Homo sapiens: one gene and its partners. The protein of the gene in region 2 interacts with the protein of the main gene of each other region in a biochemical or structural test. Each region holds a gene or a part of one and is shown on either strand. Other genes may lie near its edges.

What was found.
Region 1: the proteins of SLX9 (region 2) and BUD23 are reported together in a solved structure, tested with the Homo sapiens proteins (one study listed by BioGRID).
Region 3: the proteins of SLX9 (region 2) and CSNK1A1 are reported together in a solved structure, tested with the Homo sapiens proteins (one study listed by BioGRID).
Region 4: the proteins of SLX9 (region 2) and RIOK2 are reported together in a solved structure, tested with the Homo sapiens proteins (one study listed by BioGRID).

The regions. Positions count from the first base shown.
Region 1 is NC_000007.14:73,693,574-73,698,721, reverse strand, and holds the end of BUD23 (18S rRNA (guanine-N(7))-methyltransferase), read right to left. Parts: intron 5,099-5,148; coding exon 5,053-5,098; intron 4,731-5,052; coding exon 4,672-4,730; intron 1,257-4,671; coding exon of another isoform or gene 1,206-1,256; intron 1,118-1,205; coding exon 1,028-1,117; intron 891-1,027; coding exon 836-890; 3' UTR 510-835; downstream 1-509.
Region 2 is NC_000021.9:44,943,003-44,950,034, reverse strand, and holds part of SLX9 (ribosome biogenesis protein SLX9 homolog), read right to left. Parts: intron 6,352-7,032; coding exon 6,198-6,351; intron 1-6,197. UniProt on the Homo sapiens protein: May be involved in ribosome biogenesis.
Region 3 is NC_000005.10:149,492,455-149,499,444, forward strand, and holds the end of CSNK1A1 (casein kinase I isoform alpha), read right to left. Parts: intron 4,407-6,990; coding exon 4,399-4,406; 3' UTR 528-4,398; downstream 1-527.
Region 4 is NC_000005.10:97,166,224-97,173,255, forward strand, and holds part of RIOK2 (serine/threonine-protein kinase RIO2), read right to left. Parts: coding exon 6,952-7,032; intron 5,175-6,951; coding exon 4,983-5,174; intron 2,630-4,982; coding exon 2,537-2,629; intron 1,769-2,536; coding exon 1,244-1,768; coding exon of another isoform or gene 1,216-1,243; exon of another isoform or gene 523-1,215; intron 1-522. UniProt on the Homo sapiens protein: Serine/threonine-protein kinase involved in the final steps of cytoplasmic maturation of the 40S ribosomal subunit. Involved in export of the 40S pre-ribosome particles (pre-40S) from the nucleus to the cytoplasm.

The DNA of each region.
Region 1 (5,148 bases), on a different chromosome or scaffold from region 2:
TCTGTACTGCAATGCCCAGGATCTTGCCCCTCTTCCCACATGGACCAAAAGGCTCAAGCAACCATTACACCTCCTCTCCTATCACAGCCAGCTGGACAGTCCCACACTACCCCAGAGCAGGACCTTCCCTTTCCAACCACTAGTGACGGGACAAGAGATCAGCCCAAGACATCCAAGCACTGGGCTGGTAGGCAGCTGACCGTGCAGCTCAGTGCCACAGTTCAAGCTGGGGCCGCTGGACTGGCAAGGCCTTCACAGGAAGGGAAAACGGACTGGCCAGCAGGCACCACGAACACATTTCATGTGGGCCCTCTTCCCAACTTTGCTTGGTGTGATTATGATACAGTTATATATAAGCCCTAAATTAAAGGACTCTGTGTTCCTTGCAAATGGAAAGAATGCTTTCATCTAAGTGTTTTAAATCTGATTCCTGCCTGGGGAGTCGAGCAGTAGCCCACCAGGAGGAACTGGAGTTTGGTGAGAATCACAGAGCTGGGAGATGCCAGAGCTCCACAAAAGGAAATTTTATTTCTTGCCTTTAAACAAAATAAGATGCTCTCAGAGCTTTTTTTTTTTTTTTTTTTCCTCCCTGGAAAGGAAGTTTCATTATGTTGCCCAGGCAGGTCTCAAACTCCTGGCCTCAAATGATCCTCCCACCTCAGCCTCCCAAGGTGCTGGGATTACAGGTGTGAGCCACCACGCCCGGCCCAGAGAACTTTTTTTTTACTGCAGAAAACATTTTTATAACTTTAGAACTTTTCTAAAATACTACTTTGTCAGCTGAACAATATAGAAAAGTGCAGAGGCAAGTGCCTTTCCAGAACCGCGTGGTGACTTAGAAGCGGGGCTTGCGCTTGCGGCCGGTGTACTGGGTGTCAGGTCTGACTTCCCTGTGCAGAAAAGGAATAGGACAGTCTCAGAAAAAAAAGATCAAAGCAGCCCTGGACCCTTCAAATAAAGGGAAGCTCTTCATGGCAATAGTCATCCACCCCCCACCCACCCTGCCAGCTCCCAGGCTGGCACTCACCTGCCCTGGCGCCTGTGCCGCTCCTTCTTCTCCAGCACCCATGCCCGACTCTTCCTCACCATTCCCCGCCTCGACATCCTTAATGGGAACCTGTGGCGGAGACACAGCTATGAGCTGATGGACAGCTGATGGATGGGGCTGCCCGACTGGCCCCCATGTGAATCCATGGCAAGCTTACCTCCGAGTCTGGTGGCCTCGGATGCCCCTTCTCTCAAATGCTCCACCTTCCCTATAACACAATTCCCCGCTCTGGACACCCTCCTTCCTGATAACATCCATCCGGGCCACAGAGGTTGTTGGGTGGGCAGAGGAGGAGAGAGCTGGGCCGGGCATGGAGACCTAAACACCAGCGAGCAGTCTGTTCCCTCTTCGGGAAGCAGCTAAGCAGCAGTAAGCAGGCCGCTTTCTACCAATGCAATGACACATCATCACCTAGACTTCAAGAGCACAGTCGACAGTTCACAGCAGGAGCTTAGGGTCCCACAGCTTGGGGGCAGGAAGACAGGGATGGAAAGGAGGGTCTGAAAAGGAAGGACTGAGGGGTATGAGGGAAGAAGGAAAGAGGGCGGGGTAACCCCGAAGACCCCTGTGACCATCCGTAGAAACCAGAGACAGGGCAAGCCAAGGAGCTGCCATTCGGATGCCTGAGCCTGATGAGCCAGCACAAAGCAGGAGCAGCTGCAGAGCAGGGCTGGGGACACAGGAGGAGTCATCTCAAGATTCTACAAAGAGTACAAAGTGAGGGCAGAGTGGCGAACCAGGGGGCAAGAGGTGAGCCATGGGAGAAGCAGCAAGGGGGAAAGTCATCAATGGAGCTAAAGGAAGGAGGTGAAGACGGGGAGTGCCCCAAAGCACAGGTCCCAAGAGAAGTGGGGGCCCAGCCCTGCAGGAGGCACATGAGAGGCATGGGAGGGAGGCGGCCAGGAGGAAGGGAGGAACAGGCCAAAAAGAGAGCCTGGAGACTGATTAGGTAAAGACTTAAAAAACTTTTTCTTAATTCACCTGTTTATTTAAAATAAACAAGTGTCCTGAATGTGGTTAGACTGAGATGACAGTAACGGGAGAAGCTCCTCCCTGCCCTGTACCTCATCTGAGGAACTGGAAGTGAGAGCCTACAGAACGAGGGATGGCAAGGTACGTGCTGGGCACCCTCAACACACTGCCAAGATAGGTGGCACTACCCCTACTTTTTGAATAGCTGAGGAATGGATGCTCAGGTCATTCAACTTACCCACATTTACTTTTAGGACATGTCGTTTGAAGACACCAGTGTAAGGACAAGAAGGATCCTAAGACACATGGAGATAAGGCAATGTGTACTTCCCCTGGGAGGGAGGAGATGGGAGTGCTCCCTGGGAGCACGAGATGGGCGCCTCAGAGAAGAGGTCATCCAGAAGGGTCCCAGCTCCCCATGGGGAATGGACTAGGGAAACTAAGGGAAATGAGCAAAGACCCAAGGGGTCAGGCAGCATAAACCTATGGTGGACGTGAGGAACATGCATGGCTGTGCCCAGCTGTGGGCCTTCCAAACACATGCATTTTGGGCTCATTTTTCCTCTTAAATGTCTTAAAGGTCTTAAGACCTTTCCCTCATGTCAACTGGACCTCAGATATAACCTCCCTCTTCACTACCTTATAATCAATTATTCATTCAGAAAAATACTGAGCACTTTTTACTAACAAGACACTATTTTTAATGTCAGGGATATAATACCAGTCCTCACCAAGTTTTCACTCTAGCTGGAGATACAAATAATAACCAAGTCAACTGGTATGTGTATGACTTAGAGCAGTGAAGGGTGTTAAGGAAAATCAACATGAGCGGGGAGCACAACTGCAATGAAGGCACTAAAAGAGCAATGACAAGATACAACTTACATTTTAGAAAAAAAGAAAAAGACCAGTCTTGCTGCTATGCAGAAAATAATCTGAAAGAGGCAAAGACTGCAAAGGCAAGGAGACAACACAGGCAGCTGTTCAGCAATCCAGGCTAGGGGCAGTGCTGGATTAGGCTCGTTGGAAGCAGGGAGGGTCAGCACGGGGATACACACTGAGGGACGGACAGCAGGGCTCAATGACAGGCTGACAAGATGTGAAATGTAGGGAAAGACAGGAATGATCAAGAATGGTAAAGAATGGAGGATGAGGCCAGGCGCAGTGGCTCACACCTGTAATCCCAGCACTTTGGGAGGCCGAGGCGGGCGAATCACGAGGTCAGGAGTTTGAGAACAGCCTGGCCAACATGGTGAAACCCTGTCTCTACTAAAAACACAAAAAATTAGTTGGGCGGGCGCCTGCAATCCCAGCTACTCGGGAGGCTGACGCAAGAGAATCGCTGGAACCTGGGAGGCAGAGGTTGCAGTGAGCCGAGATCAAGCCACCGCACTCCAGCCTGGGGGGAAAGAGTGAGACTCCATCTCAAAAAAAAAAAAGAATGGAGGATGGCCAGGCATGGTGGCTCACATCAGTCATCCCAGAACTTTGGGAGGCCGAGACAGGGGGATTGCTTGAGGCCAGGAGTTCAAGATCAGCCTGAACAACATGGCAAGACCTCATCTCTACCAAAAACTTTAAAAATTAACCAGGCATGGTGGCATGCACCTGTAGTCTCAGCTACTTGGGAGGCTGAGGCAGGAGGATCATTTGAGCCCAGGAGTTCGAGGCTGCAGTGAGCTAAGATTCCACCACTGCACTCTAGCCTGGGTAACAGAGAGAGACTACCCATGGAAACTCCAGGTATAGACACTGAGGGGGCATTGGGAAACCCCAGGTGGCAAGAGACTGAAGATACACATTTGGGAATTAGGACCTTCCGGCTGGCATTTACAGCACCACAGGTAGAGAAGGGATCCAATCCAGGCTGGGCCCAGCACTCGAAGAGGAAGCAGCAGTGGAGTGAGGAGCAGCCAGGAAGGCTGAGGAAACCACGATGGTGGGTGGAAGGCCAAGTGAAGGAAGCGTCAAGGAGGGAGCGCACTGCTGTCTTTGACCCTACCGAGCAGGCACATTAAGGACATGAAAAAAAGTCACAAGTGACCAGATGTGGCTTGATGGAAATTGGTGGTGGAGTTGACAAGAACAATTTGTGATGAGACAGAATTGTCAGCCTGAGAAGTGGATTGAGAGAATGGTGGGAGGGGAAGAAGAGGCAGGTCTGAGTTCTGCTATGAAGGGAAGCAACAACGGGGTGGTTAGTTGTTGTTATGGGGTTAAGGAAGGAACTTTTCTAGAAAAGGAGAAATTGTGCAGCATGTCTGTGTGCCGACAGCAGTGACCCAGGAGAGTCAAGATGAGGATGCAGGAAGGAAGGGAGAGCCACAGCACCCAAGGGAGAGGGTCCCAGATGCAGGTGGAGGGCAGCATCAGAAAAGAAGGAGACAGCCTGCCAGGCGTGGCAAGGGGAAGGGGCATGTGTGGGCTCACAAAGGGAGTCCAGGCTGCATGGCTGCACCCAGACATCCAGGACCCCAAACCCCTAGCCCCAAACAGGCACAGTCCAAATGGGACCTGATGTTTCTACCGTCACCTTGGTGTCCCTGCTGCATGTGACCTGAGAGGCTTGGGTGAGGGCAGAGAGAAAGTCCATGTCTAACAAATGTGGCAGCCCCCGCTGCAGCCGGGGCAGGCTTCAGCAGTTGCTTTACCTCTCATTGGTGAACACAGACTCCCTGGGTTCAACTTCATCCTGATTTTCACTCAGCCCCTGCAGGAACCAAAGTGCACTCAGGTCACCCTGGAGAGTTCTCAAACCATCTGCCCCACTCCAGAAGCCCAGGCACCCAGGCCTGACCCTTCCGACAGGGACGAGGTCCAGTCCCACGAGAAGGAACTGACACGCCTTTCTGGGACCTGCAGAGCAGAGGTCTCTGCCTCCAGATTCCAGAGGATGTGAGCACTCCAGGGTCTGCACTCTGGGGCTGGGCCCTGCTTCCCCACCAGTGTTCTCCCAGCAGGCTCTGCAGGCTGAGCCCCACTGCCTGGAAGTCAAAAGACACAGGCCTGCCTGCAAACCCAGTGTCCCTCACCTCTGGTATAAAGGTCGAAGGCCCAGAAAACAAGCAGAGGTAGAATCTGAAAGGAGAAAGTGCAAAGTGAGGGTTGGGTGGAGAAAGCCCCACAGG
Region 2 (7,032 bases):
CTCCGCTGTGCAAGGCAGGAGGGAGAGCCTGCGTCTCTATCCCGGGACTGTCCCACACCTGGGCTGACCTGACAAGGACACAGCTCTGCTGCCCTCTGCTGGCCAGATCACCAGGGCAGAGGGACGGCCAGGAAGCCAAGGTCGCGCCCTCCACCGCAGGTCCCTCCACCGCAGGTGCCTGGGGGTGGAGTGGGGTCTAAGCAGGTACAATCACCTGGGCAGCGCTCTGTGCTGACCGGGAGAGCCAGCCCTGCCCAAGGGCTGGGTGCAGGAGCTTGGGATGTCCTTGCACCACAGCCTGGTGGCCTCGTCACCCAGTCCAACACGCCTGCAGACGCAGACGTGTTCCACTGACAGCAGCAGCAGGTCGTACACAGCCGGAAGGCGCAGGCAGAAGCGGCAGGAGTGGCTGCCGGAGCAGCAATGGCGGCGGTGGGTGCCCTGTGCCCGGCGTCTAAGAGTAGGCCTCTGTGGCTTCAGAGCCTGGCTCCATGGTGCGCTCTGGCCTGCTGCTGCTGCACAGAGGGTTCTGGGGGGTAGGCGGAGCTGGGGCCGCGCTTTGGGGACCCGGACAGCAGTGTGGTCCCTGTGTCCACCCGGCCGAGGGTGCTGGGTTCCTCTGGAGGAGGCTATGGTGCAGGGCCGCCTGGGCTGCATCCCTAGGATCCACCCCACATCGGTGTGACTGCCAGGCCCGACACTCCTGACAGCCGGGCCCAGGGCCCAGGGCCCACAATCCACTCCCTGATCAGGAGCAGCCCCCGGGCAAGGCCACAAACCGTGCGAGGGGGAGCCAGGGCTGCATGCTCCACAGAGCCAGCAGGAGCGGGAGCAAGCAGCAGCCAAGTCGGGGCTCGGGACCCTGGCCTCTCTGCACTCTTACCCTTGCAGACTCAGAGATGCCTGCTCCTGCTGCCTGGCCTCTCCCTGCTTCCAACGCCCACTCCAATCTCAAAGGGGGGTTGGGGCTGAGCCCAGGTGCTGTCAGAGCCCGGCCGGGTGTGCACACACTCAGGCCCTGCCACCTTGGCCCCCTCTGGACCTTGGGCATCAACAAGCTCTGGGAGGAAGCCAAGGCGGGGGCTGAGGGTGGCTTGGCGCTGGCCTGCAATGGCCGGACCCCACACTTGCTCACACACACACTTCACCGCTCCACGCCTGACTCCAGTCTCCCTTGGAGGCATGAGATCCAGGCCAGTAGCATGAGCTGAGCTCAGCCTGCCAGGCCAAGTAGGTGAAATGAGCCCAGTGGGCCTGGACAAAACTCAAGCAAAGGTGCCACCGGCCACAGGTATCTGGCCAGAAAAGCAACACCCCCAAAATCCTGTACCACCACCGGCGCCTCTCATGCCCCCACCGCCCCCAAGCCGTCCACCATGCTGTGAGCTCCCTCTCCAGCAATGGTGACAGGCCTCCCAACATCCTCTGCTCCAGGGGCCCCCAGCCCCACCCGGCTCTGAGTCCATACCAGGCCTTGCCCCACCCTGCCTGTGTCTCTGAGCTTGAGTCCCAAGTGCCTGTCTGAAAACAGGTGGGCTCGTTTTCTGGTATGAAGGAACACAGAACTAGAAATCCAATTCTAAGCGTGCTCCATGACCAGCTCCCCAGACGCCCGGTGCTCCACGACCAGCTCCCCGGACCGCCCGATGCTGCATGACCAGCTCCCCGGACGCCCGATGCTCCACGACCAGCTCCCCGGACGCCCGATGCTCCACGACCAGCTCCCCGGACCGCCCGATGCTCCACGACCAGCTCCCCGGACCGCCCGATGCTTCACGACCAGCTCCCCGGACCGCCCGATGCTCCACGACCAGATTCCCGGACCGCCCGATGCTCCACGACCACCTCCCCGGATGCCCGATCGCCCGATGCTGCATGACCAGCTCCCCGGATGTCCGATGCCAAGGATTGGAGCCGTGCCCAAGGCTGGAGGATCAGCCACCACTGGACACCCGGCCGGCTGCCAGGCTCTGGTATTGCACAAGCCAGCTAGAGCTGGCCACACAGCACGCACAGCAGGTGGCACTGCGTTGGGGGAGGCTCAGGAGACGGGTGCTCACCCCGGCTCTGCCACAGGTCCCTCGCCACCCCCAGAGCGGACATGGAGGAGCTGTAGCCCCGACATGGGGTCCACAGGCTGCCGCAAAGCCCCTGCATGCACAACCCGGCCCACAGGCAAAGCTGAGTCCTGCTGGGGAGGTGCAGGGGGTCTTAGAGAGCTGGGGCGGGGAGGGGACTCTAGGCCAGCCTCAGCCCTGCACCCATGCCCTCCTCCTCCCGTAGCAGGAGGCTGCAGAGCTCAGAGGGTCCCTCCCAGGATGCCCGTAAGGGTAAGGCAGGCTCCAGGGCACAGGAAGGGAACAGGGGGTCAGATGTGGCTTCCTGGCGAGCTGGGATCCGAAGGGCTTGAAAAAAAACATAGGAACGATGCCATGAACTTGTCAGTCACAGGATAGGAACGATGCCATGAACTTGTCAGTCACAGGATAGGAACGATGCCACGAACTTGTCAGTCACAGGGACTAACAAGCCCCACCACTTCCCAGGGCTAGAGTGGGGGAGGAGGGGTGCAGATGGGCACACGGGTGTCCACCAGGTGATGGGCCACAGCCTAGACCCCTCCCCTGGGCCACCCAGCTCCTTGGCCAGAGACGCAGCATGCAGTGCTATTCCTGACTCAGGCAGGGCACGGACGATGAGACACATCTTGGGAAGGCGGTGTTGCACTAAGCCAGGCAGACAGGCACCCACAGGCCGCCACCTCACCTCCATAGCCAGGCGGGTCATTGAAGGGTGGCGGCCAAGTCACAGGATGCAGTATCTGCATGACATGGGCACTCAGGCCCCAGCACAAACCCGGGGTGGGGTGGGGGTAGGGACGCAGGGCACCAGCCAATCAGGAGCTGAGGAGACCACACCAAAAAAACAGAACTGTTCCTGGAGAGAGGGAGGAACATGGTGAGGAGCAGCCAAGATGCAAAGGACCCCACTGAGGCGCCTGGATACCTCGGAGGCCTGAAGAAAAGGGGCTGGGGCCCCCAGACCAGGGCAAGCCCCTCCGCCTGTGGGGCTACTCCTCTAAGGGTCTGCAGGTCCCACCCATGAGGGTCTGTGGGCCCTGCCACCCTGCCAAGCTGGTGCTTCACATCCCAGGGCAGGGGAAGTGGAGGCCTGTCCCTCCGTCTGAGCCCTCTGTGAGGTCCCATGGTCCCCTTCATCCAGCCCGGGGCTCTTCAGTGCAGAAAACCCACAGCAGGGCGGTGGAAGGAATATGCACCAGAACCCTGGGCTGAGAGCCACAGCCAGAGACGGCTGGCCAGAGGCCTCGCTCCAGGAGGGCTGTAATGGGGGCCCGCGGCGATGAGCTCAGAACGCCCCTCCCACAGGACAGCCTCCTGGAACACACCTCAGGGACAACCTCCAAGGCACCATTTTGGAGCACCTTCTCCTGAATCCCCCTGGGGCACCAAGGCAGAAATCACAGCCATGGGCAGTGCACAAAGCCACCGGCTCCTGGCCAGAAGCACTAAGTGCCTCCCCAGGCCAAGGCTCCTCCCCAACACCCAAAACCCTGACCCTGCCGCACGGCTCAAATAATTCCCATCCTCGTGCCCCTCAAGGCGGGCTATGGGAAACACCTGCACACAAGCAGGAAGCGCCAGAACGGGCCACGCTACTGTCAGCACGAGCTCAGGGCTGGGGAGCGCCAGAACGGGCCACGCTACAGTCCCGTCAGCACAAGCTTTAAGATTTTTATGCACAAATAAGGGTATGTGAATTAAGAAAAAAATTAATTACCCAACAGACTCACAAACAATAGAATCTTCAAATTTTTTCAACTTATTGTTCAATTATTTCAAGAAAACACTTCTATGCTCTACTCTGATAACATGGTTCTGAAATTTGAAATCAATCTTTGACATTGTAAAGTTCAAGCTTCTACCCTCTCCCACCAGTTACTCTAAATTAATGAGGTTTGAGCTTACGAAAAACAAAGACCAGGCCGGGCGTGGTGGCTCACACCTGTAATCCCAGCACTTTGAGAGGCCAAGACAGGCAGATCTCTGAGGTCAAGAGATCGAGACCATCCCGGCCAACGGGGTGAAACCCCATCTCTACTAAAAATACAAAAATTAGCCGGGCGTGGTGGCGTTAGCTGGGCGTGGTGGCATGTGCCTGTTGTCCCGTCCCCGCTACTCAGGAGGCTGAGGCAGGGGAATCACTTGAACCCAGGAGGCGGAGGTTGCAGTGAGCCAAGATCAAGCCACTGCACTCCACCCTGGCGACAGAGCAAGACTCTGTCTCCAAACAAACAAACAAACAAAAAACAAACAAACAAAAACAAAGATCCAGCATGGCTCAAAGGAGAGGCCACAGGGCTGCTGGGCACGACCTCAGCCCAAGAACGCTGCGAGGCCAGATGTTGCTAAAGAGGAGTTTCCCTGGTAGGCAAGACGGGTCGTGAGCGTGACGTCTCCCTAAATTAGGAGGGGAAGAGGGGACGTGACAGTCAGTGCAGCAGGTGACCTTGGGGACCAGATGAGCCACAGGGGCTTGAAGGGAGAGGGCCAAGAAAAGGCAGAGGAAAGAGGCTGCTGTGTGAAAGAGCTCTGAGAAGCTCAGGCCAGAGCCAGGTCACTGAGACCCACGACTCCCATCCCCTTGGGGACAGCCTTAAGGGCCTTGTCAGCAACCAGGGACACAGCTCGGGCGGACCACCCACATCAAGCGTTCCTGGCTGGAAGGCACAGCTTCTCTCTGGAGTTACCTGGCCTGGTCACCTCACCAGGTCCTCCTTGGAGAGAAGGAGCAGGAAACCTGCACTGGTTAAATGTACCTGGATCTTTCTAGAGGCACAGTGAGGCCCTTAGCATCTATGAGCTATGTCTGTCGCCGCTTTGTGGACAATGGAGCTAAGGGTCACAGAGCACCCGTGATCACATGACTTGTGCCCAAGGAATTAGGGCTGGCCCACCTCTGGGCAGCTGCAAAACCCACTCGTCCCCAGCCTTCCCACCAGACCAGCCTCGTTCAACAGATGCAGAGCGGGCGCCTCCACAGCCTTCACTGCACTGTTTTAAACGTTTCACACCAACTACCTCATCTCAAACTCAAAACTGCCAGAACTTAGGAGATAAATACTGTTACCTCCTTTGACAGATGCAAAGCCCAGGCCCAGAGCGATCAAGTGTCCAGCCAGAGGCTACCAGGCGGTGAGGGGCAGAGGCCCAGAGCCCACGATCTTAACGGGCCATCTACAGGCCCCAGACCCGGCTCCTGCCCTGTCCTGGCGCTCCCAGCTCTGCCGACTGTGAAGCCACATGCAGTCTTCACTGTCACACTGGTGCCCTGAGCTCTGCCCCCACAGCCAGGCCCTCTCCCTCCCCAACCTATGACTTCCCAAGGCTGTCAAGATGTAAAAAGTATTCCTTGTGCTCCTCACCGACTCCCTTAGATGAGTGAAGGAAGCTTTTTCCTGGATTTATCCCTGGGAAGTGACACTGCTCACCATCCTCCAGCCAGAAAGTCAACACTCCCAGCATTGACCATGGTGGCCGGGAACTCTCTAAAACACCTCAGACTCAGTAGGAGGTGCAGGGGGACGGCGTTCCCTGCTAAGCTCCGGACACTGGAGTGAGTGGGAGTTCCCAGACCCTCTCACTGGCCAGGCTGACGTGTGTGCTGCAGGGCTGCAAGGAGCACAACCAGGAGACGGGAAGGGCTGCGCATGGATCTGATGAAACTGAGAGGACCCTGCTTCGGCTTCAGGATCTAAACCCTCAAGAGTTATTTGTACAAAATGATAAGCAGCTAACCTCTGCAACACATAAAGCACTTGTTTAAGAAAAGGATCAAAACTGCCCCAAACATACAGACAGACCGAAAGAATCAGCACACACGGAGAAAACAGTTCAAACCCTGTTGGTCACCAAAGCCCAAGTTCCTGTGGCTTCAGCGTGGCTGCCAGGACGCAGAGCAGTTCTTGCAGAGCTGCGGAGACATGATGCAGCCCAGGGGCAAAACCACAGCTGTAATCTACTCTGGGGAATCGCCCCAAGAAACAGCCAGGGGCATCCCTTGCTCAAGGACATTGTCAGGTACAGGTTAGCTGGAAAGCTGCTGAGACCTCGGGTGCCTGAGGGAACAATCCCAGACCTGCTGGGTATCAGCATGGTAACCCGTCGAGCCTGCCTCACCTCTCCTGATGGAAGGGACGCTCCGTGCACTCGAGCCTGCCTCACCTCTCCTGACGGAAGTGACACTCCTCACGTCCAGCTCCAGCTTCTGCACCAAGGCGCTGGGGTCTATCTTGGTCCTGGCAAAGATGTTGGTGTTGATGAACGCCCAGTCCTAATGTCCCCAACAAAAACGGACGAAAAGAAGAGGTGTGAGACTTGCTCTGTGGTTTCAGAGGGACGTTAAAGGTGAGGAGAAGATGCAAGACAAGAACCTGGATTCCCCAGCTTCTCTGCCCGGGAGGACCTGGGGGAAACAACCCTCACCTCCCAGAGCAGAAGCCTCCGGTTCCAGAGCTCCAGGGCAGACCCGCAGCGCCCAGGCCCACCTGCTCCCTGCCTTCAATCACCAGACGGGCTTCACTCCTGGTTCTTCAGGAGTCAGGACCAGTATCTCAAGAACCAAATTTCCTTCCCAACCATTTCGTCTTACTCTTTCTACAACATTCTCCTGTGTCACAGAAGAAACCTGCAGCTGAGCAGATGAAGGATAGGCAGCTCCCAGCCTGACAGCTCTTTCAGCTCAGACTGACCACATCCCATCAGAACTAGTCATCTCAGCAGCCTCTCTGCCAGGTCTGGTTCTGAGCCACACTCATCCCTGCATGAAGATTTCAGTTCCTCCAAGTCAGCTGCCGACCAAACCGTGAGGAGACAGAACCCCCCCGTCCCTGACCCCCGTGCTGCCCAGCCCATTCATGTGCAAGCCTCACTGACCTTGGCAGGGAAGGCAGCATCGACCTCAACAGAGGTTTCTGAAGGGGGTCAGAATACGCCACCCCAAAACATGTCACTA
Region 3 (6,990 bases), on a different chromosome or scaffold from region 2:
TCAAAAAAATAAATAAATAAAGTAAGGGAATATAACTATCTTCCCTCCAACTCTGTGCTTTGGTATCCTTATATGCAAAATGGAGACAGGATGTACTTCACAGGGCGCTGATTAGGCAAATACATGTAAAGCACTTAGAATAGTGCATGACACTCAGCAAATGATGGCTAATACTATCAATCTCTGGGTTTAAAAGGGTGATATAACAAGAGGAGCACCATGGCTTAACTGCATGAAAGCAAGAAAATCAGGTTGAGGTCTTGGCTCTATAAAGCTTACCAATTACCAACATGCCTTGCCTTGGGCAGCCCCACTCTTTTCTGAAACAGTTAACTGTTTCTTATTACTGTTATGAGGAATAAAAGAGATGACATATATTAAGGATTCTGAAAACTAGTTTGCAAAATGGTGATTTTTCTAACACATAAAATCCTTTCACCTTAAATTAGCTGACATTCAAGTTAGAGCTTTCTCTTCTCTCCATTTTTAAGTCAACATGGAATCATGGTATCTTATTCAGTGAGTTGTAACGTTGCTACCAGTTTATTTTGATAATTGACACAGATTTAGCAAGTATAATCCTTCAAGTGGCTCCTGTGCCCTTTTGACATGTATCCACCTTTTTGTTGTTGTTGAGACGGAGTCTCACTGCAACGCCCAGGCTGGAGTGCAGTGGCACGATCTCAGCTCACTGCAACCTCCATCTCCCGGGTTCAAGCGATTCTTCTGCCTCAGCCTCTTGAAAAGCTGGGATTACAGGCGCCCGCCACCACACCCGGCTAATTTTTGTATTTTTAGTAGAGACAGGGTTTCACTATGTTGGCCAGGCTGGTCTTGAACTCCTGCCCACTTCGGCCTCCCAAAGTGCTGGAATCACAGGCGTGTGCCACTGCTCCTAGCCAACCACTTTTTTTTTTTTTTTTTTTTTTAGATTTCCTTTGTGGCACCATAATAGAATGTTCCAGGTTCATCTCATATTTCTCCATCCCAGGAGCCATTATTACTCTACTTTTGAGTATGTCCTCAAAACTGGTCTAACAAGTCATTTCAGAAAATAATTTCACTTCAACAATACACTGTTTGTTGATTCAACACAAACTGCATGGGCTGCTTAGATCAATTTACACTTGGTTCATCGCCATCTTTGGCTGTTTCAAACATACACTGCTAAAAAAAAAAAAAGATTGTCATTAAGAATATTACAATAGAAATGGAAGTTTTGAGGAGGAAGAAAATCCCCCAAAATGTAAGCAATGGTAATAATGCATTTAAAGTATAGTCTCACAAAGTCTCACTTAAGAGAGCAGCACACCCAGGACACACATATTGATCTGCTGACACCACTTCTTTACTATACTTCATATAGATGTCCTCACATCTTGATTTACATGGTTATAACTGCTTAAAAACTGGCAAAGAGAAAACCTAAAATAATGCTTTATACCAGTTTGAGTCAGAACCAGACTGTTCCAGACTAGTTGGAAAACGACCCAGGAACTCACCTGCATTAAATGCTGAATTTAACTGAGCTAAAAATGTCTAGGCCATCCCTTCTTAGAATTCCCATGACTCATTCTAGTCAAAAGCTATAAGAACATATTCCTTAATAGTTCAGCAAACTTTAGGGAAAACTAGCTCATTGTCTTGGGTTCTAAAGTCCTTTTGTTTGATTATTTTTATTATAATGAAATTAAACTTATGACTATTACAGTATGCTCAGCTTAAAACATTTATGAGTACTGCAAGGACTAACAGAAACAGGAAAAATCCTACTAAAAATATTTGTTGATGGGAAATCATTGTGAAAGCAAACCTCCAAATATTCATTTGTAAGCCATAAGAGGATAAGCACAACCATATGGGAGGAGATAACCAGTCTCTCCCTTCATATATATTCTTTTTTATTTCTTGTTATACCTTCCCAAAACAGAGACATTCAACAGTAGTTAGAATGGCCATCTCCCAACATTTTAAAAAAACTGCACCCCCCAATGGGTGAACAAAGTAAAGAGTAGTAACCTAGAGTTCAGCTGAGTAAGCCACTGTGGAGCCTTAAGTGGTGAGGTCTTCCAATTTCAGAGTGATGTGTCTTCAACTTGTATCATCATTTTAGCGGAAAAACATAATTTAATTTTGGTGAAATGAGATTCATCTCGTAACAGGATTAGTAACAGCATTCACTGAATTTCACACTCTTCTTTTGTGAACAGTGAAGAAAATGAATGGTAGCTAGAAGATCAATGGGATTCCAGCTCCAGCTGCAGATGGAATGACGATATACCAGGACAAAAAACACCTATATTTTGATTTACAAAGCTAACAGCAGTTTTAAATCTGCAACTTAATTACAGACCAACTACACCACAACCTTTTCAAATGGCAAAAATACAAAAAAGTGTTACAAAAATATTTCAGAAAAAGTGCATAGTCTAAGTGCATAGTAAATAAAAGCACTGAAAAATATCTTGCTAGAGGGAGTTCAGCTTGGAAGTTATTACCAAAGCTAAACATTTTTATTTTACACAAACTATACTCAAAAATAGCTTTATGAGACTGATTTCTGGCTAAAAGTATCAAAGGGTTTATTAGTCAAGAAACAAATACCTCAACCGACAAGGGTGGATAGAAAAGAAACAAAGAAGCTGCCTACCCCAGAAGTTCAGACTTAATAAAATTTCTTCAGTATTACGGTACTAATATCCCTTAATGGCAGAATGTGATAATCATGGAATTAATTATTGCTAAAGTAGTTTTCAAATAAAAAAAAGAAAAAAGAAAACAAAACAAATTAAACTTGACACAATCTGACCAAACACGTGTCAATTTACAATTTCAAGGTTATTTTACAAAATACCTACATTTACACAATAGGCTCCCGGCAGCATTTCCAGACAAATGTTCTTTTAATTTATCCTGACATGCTATAAATGAATAAATTACACTATTTAAAAATTATCATCAGTAAGTTTTCCTTTCTCATGGGTCAGAGAAAAAGAAATGAGCGTGCAAAGAAGATTGAGAGGAAGCGCACGCACACAGATAACTTAAAGAAGCAGGAGGGGCTGGGGAGGGTCAACAATCACTGAACCTCACACAGTGTGATGCTCTCCAAGGGTGAAAGTCAACTGCTTATAGCCATTTCAAAAGTATTTTAAAGAAAAATGTTTTGTAGGGAAACCCTTTAATGCTTTCATTTTTATTCAAAATCAGTCCAGCTGCTAGTCAGCGGGCAGCAGCTACAATACCAAGTTCTGGCAGTTGCAGTACTAGATATTGTGCCTGCAAGTCATAAAAAAAAAAAAAAAAAAAGAAAAAAATGAAAGAATGCCTTTCCCCTTCAGACAAAAGAATTACTTTTTTCATTTTTCTTAAAAAAAGAGGAAAAGTTATAACACGAAACCTAAATTGACTTGCAAAGGAATACCATGTAACAAATGGCTTGAAGTAGTCTATCAAAAAATTGGGGAGATTTTTATTTAATAGTGAGTCAGCAAGGCATTTTTTGTTGTTTAAAAAAAATCTCATTTCCTTACAGAAACAGTTTTTAGTTTTTAATGAACTTGTAAACAAAAAAGCTCCCATTTCAAAATAAAAACAAAATCCCAGATCATATAGATGTTTACAGTGATTACATTTATCTAAGCAACATACATACATGTTCAGTTGTAAGATGTTAACTAAATTTCTGTGACAAATATGCTTTTTTTTTAATACCAAGAACATTATAGAGTTAATGCAGAGTCCTAAGGATAATCTAGTAGTCACTAAGTTTTTCTTAAGTCTTCACTTTAGATGCTGTTATTTCTAGCACAATTAAGCAGGCAGAGTCTTTCATATGCTCAAACACTGGAATCTTTGGTTGCTACCATATCAGCTGGCTTGCAGACAAGAAGCCAACCATTTTAAGAATGTTTTAAGTGAACAACTTGCAAACCCCAGGGATGGAAAAACCCTAAGAATGCACAATTGTGAGCATTTAACAACCATCACAACTGTGGCTGAAGACTGTTCATGCCGTTCTTCTGAAATGAGATCTCAAAGCAGTATAGTTCAAAACAAAAGGTTTTAACAAAAAATTGGCATATGCACAATTTCTCCACCAATTTTTGTGTGTCAACCATTTAGTTAACTTTTCCACTTGAAAAAATGCAATAGAAAACCGGACACCATGTTTCACTATCTCAGTTAATATTCACAATTACAGAGGCTACAACTCAGGATACAGCATCACCAATGCTGCCCAGAGTCAGTTTATACTGAAATTAAGTTCTTTACACCAAGTAAATGGTTGTCCACAACCACTGGCTAGTGTACATATGAACTAAAATTTCTAGATTTGGGGAGAAACAAATGCTGCTCCGATCATCTGCTCTGCTTCTTCTGTTCCTCAATTCATGCTTAGAAACCTGGTAAAAAATCAAAACAAAAAAAAAGTTAAAATTCCAAGTCAAAAATTTTAAATTACACCCAAAATATGGAAATTGGGTGGAACTGAGCCAATAATTATAGTGGCTCATGTTATTTCGTCTCTTGTGAAAAGTATTAGCTCAACTTTTTAAAACAGAAAAACATGAATCTATACTTAAAACTAATTTTTTCTGTTTTGAATGACTCTAGGAAGGAGTGGTACAGTGAATTCAAAGCCTCTCAGCATACTAAAATAATTATTAGTAATTCAAATGAGCATGTTTCTGCATTTTTACATATGCAGAACATATTAGGCATTCACATATTTATCAAATCAATGAAAAACAGATTGCTTTGCTTTAACTAAAGAATACAATTTTAATCCTACCATAGGCACAAATTATTTCTGACACAAATTAAAACGGTTAGCTTTAATAATAAATGCATTCAAAGCATAATTATCTGTATTATTTTACTAAACAAAGACCTGAGAAGCATGTAATTTCTGTAGAGAAACCTTAGACCTTTAAAACTTCTTTACCGGCCGCATTAGAAAGATTGTTTTGTGACTCATTTAAAAATGTAAGCAAGTGATGCTTTTTTGGCTTTATTTACTTCTCAAGCCTACACATTCTACAAATACTTCCCTCCTCCACCACAAGTAGACCCTAGGGCCTCTACATAGGCCCTAGGCCAAGTTTGAATACAAGAAGCCTCAGGTCATAACCACACTTTATCTACAGCTAAAGGCAAAGGGAGAAAATATGCCTGTCCCACAGCAATAGCCTGAAAATCTCTTAAGCACCGTTTTTCCTCTCACCAGACACCCACTCTGAGGCACCAATGCTCCTTTGTCTACCTCCTTACAAATGAGCTAGAAACTATAGCTCATTCTAGCCCACTCCAATCAATCCTCACTTCTTCAGCCCAGGTCATGTTTTCTTCAATCATAAACTGCTCCTTTTCTTTTAGTTCTTTTTTCTTTTTTTTTGGAGACAGTCTCGCTCTGTCACCCAGGCTGGAGGGCAGTGGCATGATCTTGGCTCACCGCAACCTCTGCCTCCTGGGTTCAAGCGATTCTCCTGCCTCAGCCTCCTGAGTAGCTGGGACTATAGGTGCCTGCCACCATGCCTGGCTAATTTTTGTATTTATAGTAGAGACACAGTTTCACTGTGTTGGCCAGGCTGGTCTCAAACTCCTGACCTCGTGATCCACCCGCCATGGCCTCCCAAAGTGTGGGGGTTACAGGTGGGAGCCACCGTGCCCAGCTTCTTTTACTTTTTAAACATTTGTTGGGCCATCTCCCATGGGCTTTGTGGGAGAAACAAAATAATTCTAATATTTATTTCTTATGCATATATGCCCCTTTTTTTTTTTGGGAAATAATAGCGAACATACAAGAGAGTAGGTGCATAATAGATCTTTGTTGCCTGGGTACTAAGTCCATAAGCACCAAATGCCAAAAATGAAAGATAACATAACTTTGAGAATATACTTCACCATAGGGAATATCATTTGATGCATGTTATTAAGAAGTATTAGCGAGGTAAACCTTTCTTTTAAAGGTTGTCAAACCAAACCTTAATAAAAATCTGACTATACCCTGTGACCAAATTTCAATTTTAAAATACAGGAAAAGTTTCAAGCTTCTTGTTTGGGAGTTTAAAAAAGAAAAAAAGTACAATACAGGATAAGCTATGCAGGTTAAGAAACTAAGGATTAAACAGAAATTAAACAGATTAAACAGGATTAAACAGAATTCCCCCATCAGGATTTGGTTTCAAGTCTTGCAATTCTTCTTAAACATGATTTAAAAAACGTATTTTCACAACTACTAAAATTGCTGGGTTTTATCATAGTTTTCTTATGTAATCATATTAAACTAATTGTTATGGTGAATATACCAAATGGCTTTCAAAGGGAAAACCACCATCACTAACAAACTAAAATGGAAACATGCTACATTGTCAGTCAAAATACAAGGAAACTCTTGTGCCTTTAATAGCAAGAAAACTTCAGAATGTATCTGTACATCTTTTGACCTGTTATCTGAGGAATTGCTGAGTCAATAAATGATTACAATTGTTTAGAAACTGGTAAAAGGCTACCCTAACAATATTCCTGGTAGAATAGAGCAGTCAAATCCAGCTTTAACTCTTCAAATGGGTCAATGGTATGACATTCCAGCCAGGGATCAACATTTCTCCAGTGAATTGTCCTAAGATGTTACTGAAGTATGTTTAGGAAAAAACCTCAATAGGAATATTCAACAGGTATTCAACAGTCTTGCAGTACTAAGCATTCTTTTCCCCAATACGCATTGGTCTTTGGTTTTTATCTTGCAGATTAGGTGGCTCATCCAGGCTTCCAAGAGTTCAAGAACCCATCTTCACTGTAACATCAGTTAAAATGAGGAATGAATCCCTTTATTCCTTAAAAAAAAAGGGGAGGGGGAGGGGGGAGTTAAAACAGAGTTGGAGGATGTGATGATTAAGAAGTTAATAGCTTAATTAAATTTCAAATCTGCAAAAAGCAAAAAAAAGTTTATTTTTATATAACTAACAAGGATATTCTATCCCTGCC
Region 4 (7,032 bases), on a different chromosome or scaffold from region 2:
TATTCTGTTTCTTTGAAGAATCCAGTCTAATACAATCACTTACTCAAAATCCTGAGCCTCTGTCACCCCTCTTTTCCTTTTAAGCTTCTGATTTAATTTTCCAAGTTTATTATTTAAATGGCAGTAGCCCTGTGACACAGATACACAGCTATATGAAAAAGGAACAAAATTCTCATGTTTTGCTTCAGGAATAAAACTTTAAAGATAAAGGTAGGCTTAAGATATAAGCCCAAACATGTACTGAAAAATGTTTAATAAATGTATTGCTGAACTAATTTTAATTGTCATATTACTATTTTGAAATAAATAAAACCAATATTTCATTTAACTACAATTTGATTCTGAATAAGCAATCCCAAATCCAAAAATTAAGTTTTAGAACTTTTCCTAATCTAAGCTGAGCCTGATTAATATTTACAAAAAAAAATTATTAAAAGAAAACATAATATCATTAGATAATTTTAACTACACATGAACAAAGGATAGAAGGCTCAAGGTACTAGAGAAAATTCACTGCAGATGTTTCATATAGAAAGTACATTTATTGCATGTTTTAATATTTACATGCCTTTACATAACTCAAACACACATCAGATGTGTAATTAGGAAAATATATGAGGAATAACTCATCCATCTAAAACCTGATCAATGTATCCAGAGACCTGCAATAATTTTAAAATCATCAGTTTGTATATATATATATATTTTTGAGACGGAGTTTTTTGCTCGTCACCCAGGCTGGAGTGCAGTGGTACGATCTTTGGCTTACTGCAACCTCTGCCTCCCAGGTTCAAGTGATTCTCCTGCCTCAGTCTCCCAAGTAGCTGGGATTACAAGCACAGGCCACCATGCCCGGTTAATTTTTATATTTTTAGTAGAGACAGGGTTTTGCCATGTTGGCCTGGCTGGTCTCAAACTCCTGACCTCAGGTGATTTGCCTGCCTTGGCCTCCCAGAAGTGCTGAGATTACAGGCATGAGCGAGCCACTGTGCCCAGCCATCAGTTTGTATTTTAAGGCAGAATTACTTGAAATTTAGTCAATAGGCTGCCTAGAATCAGGTCAATTGAAAAGGAAGCTATTTTGAGTTTTTAACAACAAAAAATTATTTGGCTTTCATTTTATACATCAAGGTGGCAGAATACAATTTTGTCACATCATTTGAAAAAAACATTCTTTTACTAGAATCTAACAAAGTATCAGTCTCAAGACTAAAGTTAAAAAGCAATCGACAGAAGTCTATACCTGAAAGGCCTGAATTCTCTATTTAATGACGACAAGGCAATTAGATGAGGGCATTCATCTTCATACTCGTCAGAGCCAGCAGGGACTCCTCCTTGAACTCTCTGACCATCTTGCCTGTTGTAATTTTCAGTTCTGTTTTTCTCCTCAGAAAATTCAGTTACAGAGTTGTTTTCAACAACCTGCCCTTTTATTTCTTCTAAAGCTTGATTGAATTCAGTCATTTCAAAACTCCGTGCATCAGCACTCTCTTCTGATAAACTGTCTTCCTTTATTTGTTCAGGGTCTCCAGATGATCTGCAATAGCAGCCCTCTGATTCTTCTAGACAGTTCCGTTCACTTTCATTTTCTGACCCGTAAACCTCTGCTTTTTCTGCCACTTCTCCATCTGAAAATGAGAATTCAGATCCCTCTTTTGTTTCAATATTTTTATCATCTGGACCTAATGGATGAAGCAGTTCATCATCTGCCTGCATTTCCTTTGTGTAGCCACTGGCAGAAACCTCCACATCAAGAGTGTCTTCTCTCCTAGAAAAAAAAGGCGTCAAGCATAGAAAGAGAGAAAAAATGTTTATCTAAGAGGAGCAAATATCTACTACTCTGATAAATTATGATTCAAGTGAGTTTAATAGCTTATATGTTAAAAATAAATTTTCCTTCCCTAAAATGTAATATTTAAATGACACAGGTAAACAAATATGAAAGGTATATGCTGGCTGTCATTTTAAGAATAAAATAACTGAAAAGCAACAATATAAATAAAAAGGTTATAAAAACCTCAGCTTATGTTTATTAACTTTGTAAATTAACTTTCAAAGGGGGCTAAGGATTTCCTTCAGATTATGTGACTCATCCCAGATCAGAAAATATCTTAAGTGTATAAAATAAATATGAGAAAACTGAGCTTTGAGAATGCACATGATAGTTATGTTTTGAGAATCAATTAAAGATACCTCCTGGTCCTTGATAAAGGAAAAACACAAATTTCAATGAATGTTTGGTGTTATTCCTTATGAATGAGTTACTCAAATAGCATCCAAAATAGAATAAAAGTTCTTGAATTTATAAGAATCTAGATATGTCCGCTTCCTAAAATTCAGTAACAGTGCCTTAATGGACCAAATGCAGGTATTTTCAAGTTTTTAAGTTTCAGTTATGTACTACAGAGCAATGACATCTAACAGTGATTACGTGTCAAAATTTGGAAAGTTTTTTAGATGAAAATGTTAATTTTTAGAAATACACAGACCAGATATTTAAACTGTTCTATTATGTAAAGCAATGGGGAGTACAAACCTGATATCCTTAAAAGTTGGAAAAAGCTCACTTTCGTAGCTGAAACGTTTCATAAAGAAATCTTTAATGCATTTAACATCTCTGTCAAAATACCTGCAAAAGCAAGAATCATTTATGATATAGTCTTTATTGCTCCTCTTTTTCCTTATTAGCCAATGACAATATACTTATTGGTTAATGGTATTGCTCCTCCTTACACAAGGAGATAAAAGATGTTACACAAAAGAAAAAAGATACAAATGAGTTAACCAGTGTGTTTGAAAAACTAAAATCCAAGGAAATCTCAAGGATATAAGCTGTCAATGCCATGCAGTTCCTACGGTTAGGAAAGTCAAGGTTTTGTCATAGTTACTGGTATATAGTTAGATACACTAGGGAAAGATGAATGTGAACCCCAGGAAATAAGATAATGGGCCTATGGTTTGGGGATAGGTTTCCACTTATTCTGTTCGTCCTGAGTCTGGCTATGCTTCTTATCAGCAACACTCACTAGAACCCCTAGCCAACTGAAAGATCTGACGATAAAAAGATATTAATATTAAACAGTTAAGTTTGGAGACTACTGAATTATGTTTATGTATCTTTGTTATCCATTAGCCGATTTGCAATAACACCCAAAGGGATAAATAATGCTACAGCCTATAAAAATAATCTGAGGACATGTTAATCTGGACCAAAAGTAGAACAATATCTGAATATCAGGCTGCCTTTTTGGGCCACCACAAAGCAGCAAAAATGGATTCAATTCTCTAGAAGATTTCCAGACAAGGGAGAATTAAGGACAGGATAATGTGCAATTGACTCTCTTTGAGAAAGATGAAGTTTGGAAATAGGAAGATAATGCCTCTCCTCTTTGCTCACAGGGTACTCTGGGAAAAATACTAATACATTTTAAAAAGACTATTTTATATATGTTTACATCTCCCTACGAGACAGTAACATTTTCTAAAGCATATATAGGGGTTATTTATATCTCAATCTCTAGCAATTAGCACAGCTCCTTGGCCCCAGAACTGGTTCATAAAAATTGAAATTAAATCACAATGTCTCTCCATAGAACGATGCAGCCTAAACCTAGAATGTCATAATCTGTCACACTCTGGAGGCTCCTAGATGTTCCTTTACTGTGTGACTATGTTACTCCTTATTAATAAAAATCATGATTAGTCATCATCCAAAGAGTACTGACCACCCCAGTGCCAGGCATTAATCTTTTAGTATTATTTTGTTGAAAACGTTTTAAAAATTTATTTTCAAATGACATTTCTTTCTGTAGCATAAGTATAGACATTTTCTACTGGAAACCAGGATGAAGAGACGCTTCACTTAACAAAACTACTTCAAGCTCAATCTCTGGAAGAATTAATATACTCTATTATATAAGTGATACTAGTTGTTAGTTTAGGAAAAAAGTTTCTCATAAAGCTTGGAACAGAAAGAAAAAAAAATCCTTAGTTACACTCAATTGAATCATAAACCTCAAGCAAATAAAGGATAAGGTCCTGTTTCATGACTTGGCTGGCTTGGTTTAAATAAGTAATGTGAAGAATATGATTATCGCAGTATATCATGATTCTGCACTGTGTCAGAGATAAAGTTTTATGTGATTTTTTTTCTAATAAATAAAGCTAAAAGTGACAAGAGGTAATTATCACTGGTTTGACAACTGAGTCCAGTCCAAAACCACAACTTTTATTCAGATCATCGAGATTACTGAGTTATACTTGGTGAATCTCTCTTGGAGGCAATCATGGAACAGCAAGAAAAAGGGAAAGACAAAAGTGGTTCTAGAGTTCCCCACTACACTCCCTACTTTTACCTGTTTTAACAATTGGTCTTCCATCTAAAAGTCTGTTTGAACAAAGGGTTCCATGGCTAAGAAAATTTGACTTTTGAACGTCTGTCAATTTACAACAGAGAAATTCAAATTCTTATGGGGAAAACTCTAGTAGTTATACTTTAATAAAAAACCAAATTTTTATAACGTTAACACTAGCCACTTCAAACCAGTGACTGACCTAAATAATAGTATCACAAAATTGAAAAATTATGAAAAAATGATTATATTCTAAACAAACACACCCACATCCAGAATCAATAATAGCATGTAAGGGCCGGGCGCAATGGCTCACCCCTGTAATCCCAGCACTTTGGGAGGCCGAGGCGGGTGGATCACCTGAGGTCAGGAGTTCAAGACCAGCCTGACCAACATGGAGAAACCCCATCTCTACTAAAAAAAAAAATACAAAAAATTAGCCAGGTGTGGTGGCACATGTCTGTTATCCCAGCTCCTCGGGAGGCTGAGGCAGGAGCATTGCTTGAACCCGGGAGGTGGAAGTTGCAGTGAGCCGAGATCGCGCCATTGCACTCCAGCTTGGGCAACAAGCAAAACTCCGTCTCCAAAAAAATAAAATAAAATAAAAATAAAAAAATAGCAAGTACGTACCACTCAGCATTGGGATGAGAAGTTGAAACCATCTGTGGAAAATCAATCATGGTGATATGGTCACTTTCATCCAAAATGAGATTAAATTCATTAAAATCTCCATGAATCAGCCCATGATTTGCAAGTTTGACAATTAGTTCCATAGCTTCATCATATACTGATGCAGGATCTTCAACATGGTGTATCTGACATCTGAAAGTATTTTAAGCATGAAAATAGGTTACTTGTGTTCATTTACGGTTTTAACGAAAGTATGTATGCATGTGAACATATATATTATTTCCATGCTGTGTATCCCCAGCAGCTTTCTTCTCATTCCCATCAGCACACAGATATAATATCTCCCATCTATTAAAAAAATAGCCACACTGCTTCAATTCTGTATCTCTTTTCTACTACTACCTTTCTTTGATCTTTACAGCCAAACTTGTCTACATGTGCTTTTCCAATTTGTTTCCTCCTACTCTCTCATACCATTTCAAACAGGCTTTTTATAACGTTAACACTAGCCACTTCAAACCAGTGAGTGACCTAAATAATAGTATCACAAAATTGAAAAATTATGAAAAAATGATTATATTCTAAACAAACACACCCACATCCAGAATCAATAATAGCATGTACGGGCCAGGCGCAATGGCTCACCCCTGTAATCCTAGCACTTTGGGAGGCCAAAGTGCTTCCAAGATCACCCTTGTTGAGACTACAATGACTTCAATGTTGCTAAATCCAAAGGTCAATTCTTAGTCCTCATCATATGTGGTCTGTCAGTTGACCTCTTTGAACATTTTCTTCACTTAACTCTTGGGACACCATTCTCTCCAGGTGTTCTTCCTTCCTCACAGATCATACCTTCTTAGTCTTTTCTATTTGTACTTCATCTTTTTCCTTGACCTCTAAATTCTGGAGTTCCTCAAAGGTCAATCCTATGACCTTTTATTTTCTCTTATTTAGACTCATTCTTGGTGATCTCATCTAGGTTAATGGTTTAAATACCACATATACACTGATTTTAATGTAGACTTCTCTAACTCCCAGGCATCTCAAACTTAGCATGTCCAAAATGGAATCTCTGATTCTGTCCCACCCTCCAACTCCAAAATGCTGTTCCTGTAGCTTTCCTGTTTCTATACATGGTAGATTTCTCCTTCCAGTTAATTTGCTACTCAGGGGAAAAACCTTGGTGTCACCATTGACTCATCCCTTCCTTCACATCCATATCCAATCTCAAATCATGTTGGTTCAACCTGCAGAACACATTCAGAATCTGACCACTTTTCATCACCTTCACAACTATCACTGTAATCAGAATTACAACCATTTCTTGCCTAGATTATTGTAATAGCCTCTTAACTTGTCTTCCTAATTCTTTGTCTCCCCAGAGTCTATTAATTCAGCAAGCAGAGTGACCCTCTGAAAACACTGAGATCACTGATTGATGAGATCACATCTCTTCTCTGCTCAAAATACTCCCACTCCAATAGCTGCTAATCTGAATCAAAATTTGATGAGGTTTCACCTTATTAGTGAGACTTTTCTTGACCACCCTACATAAAACAGTAGTCTCCTGTCCCGTTAGTACTTCCTATCTCCCTTACTCTGCTTTTTTTTATCCATAGTACTTACTAACAATTGATATACATTTCCTTTAGTTATTTATTGCACATCTCCTTCCATCAGAATGTAAATTCCATGAGGGCAGGGACTTTGTTTTGTTCACTGCTGAGATTAAAAGTTCCTGGCACCTAACAGTCTCTTAATATTGAATGAATGAATGAATCACAGAGATTACAAAGTTCATATTGTCAGAATGAAACTGGGTTTTTAATTTGTCTTTGAGTCTATTCCTTTAAATAAATTTTAACCTCCCAGAGGCAATATTTCATTAACTAAAAAAAATTTTATTAAAAACCCTGAAACTTAAATTCATTTATCAGGATTCATGGCTTTAAGAATAATGAATACTTACAGTGGATAACCATTTATGAGTTCCATGACCACTGCATGACGATTGTAATCAATTGGCTTTGGAACTGGAAATTTCCTCTCA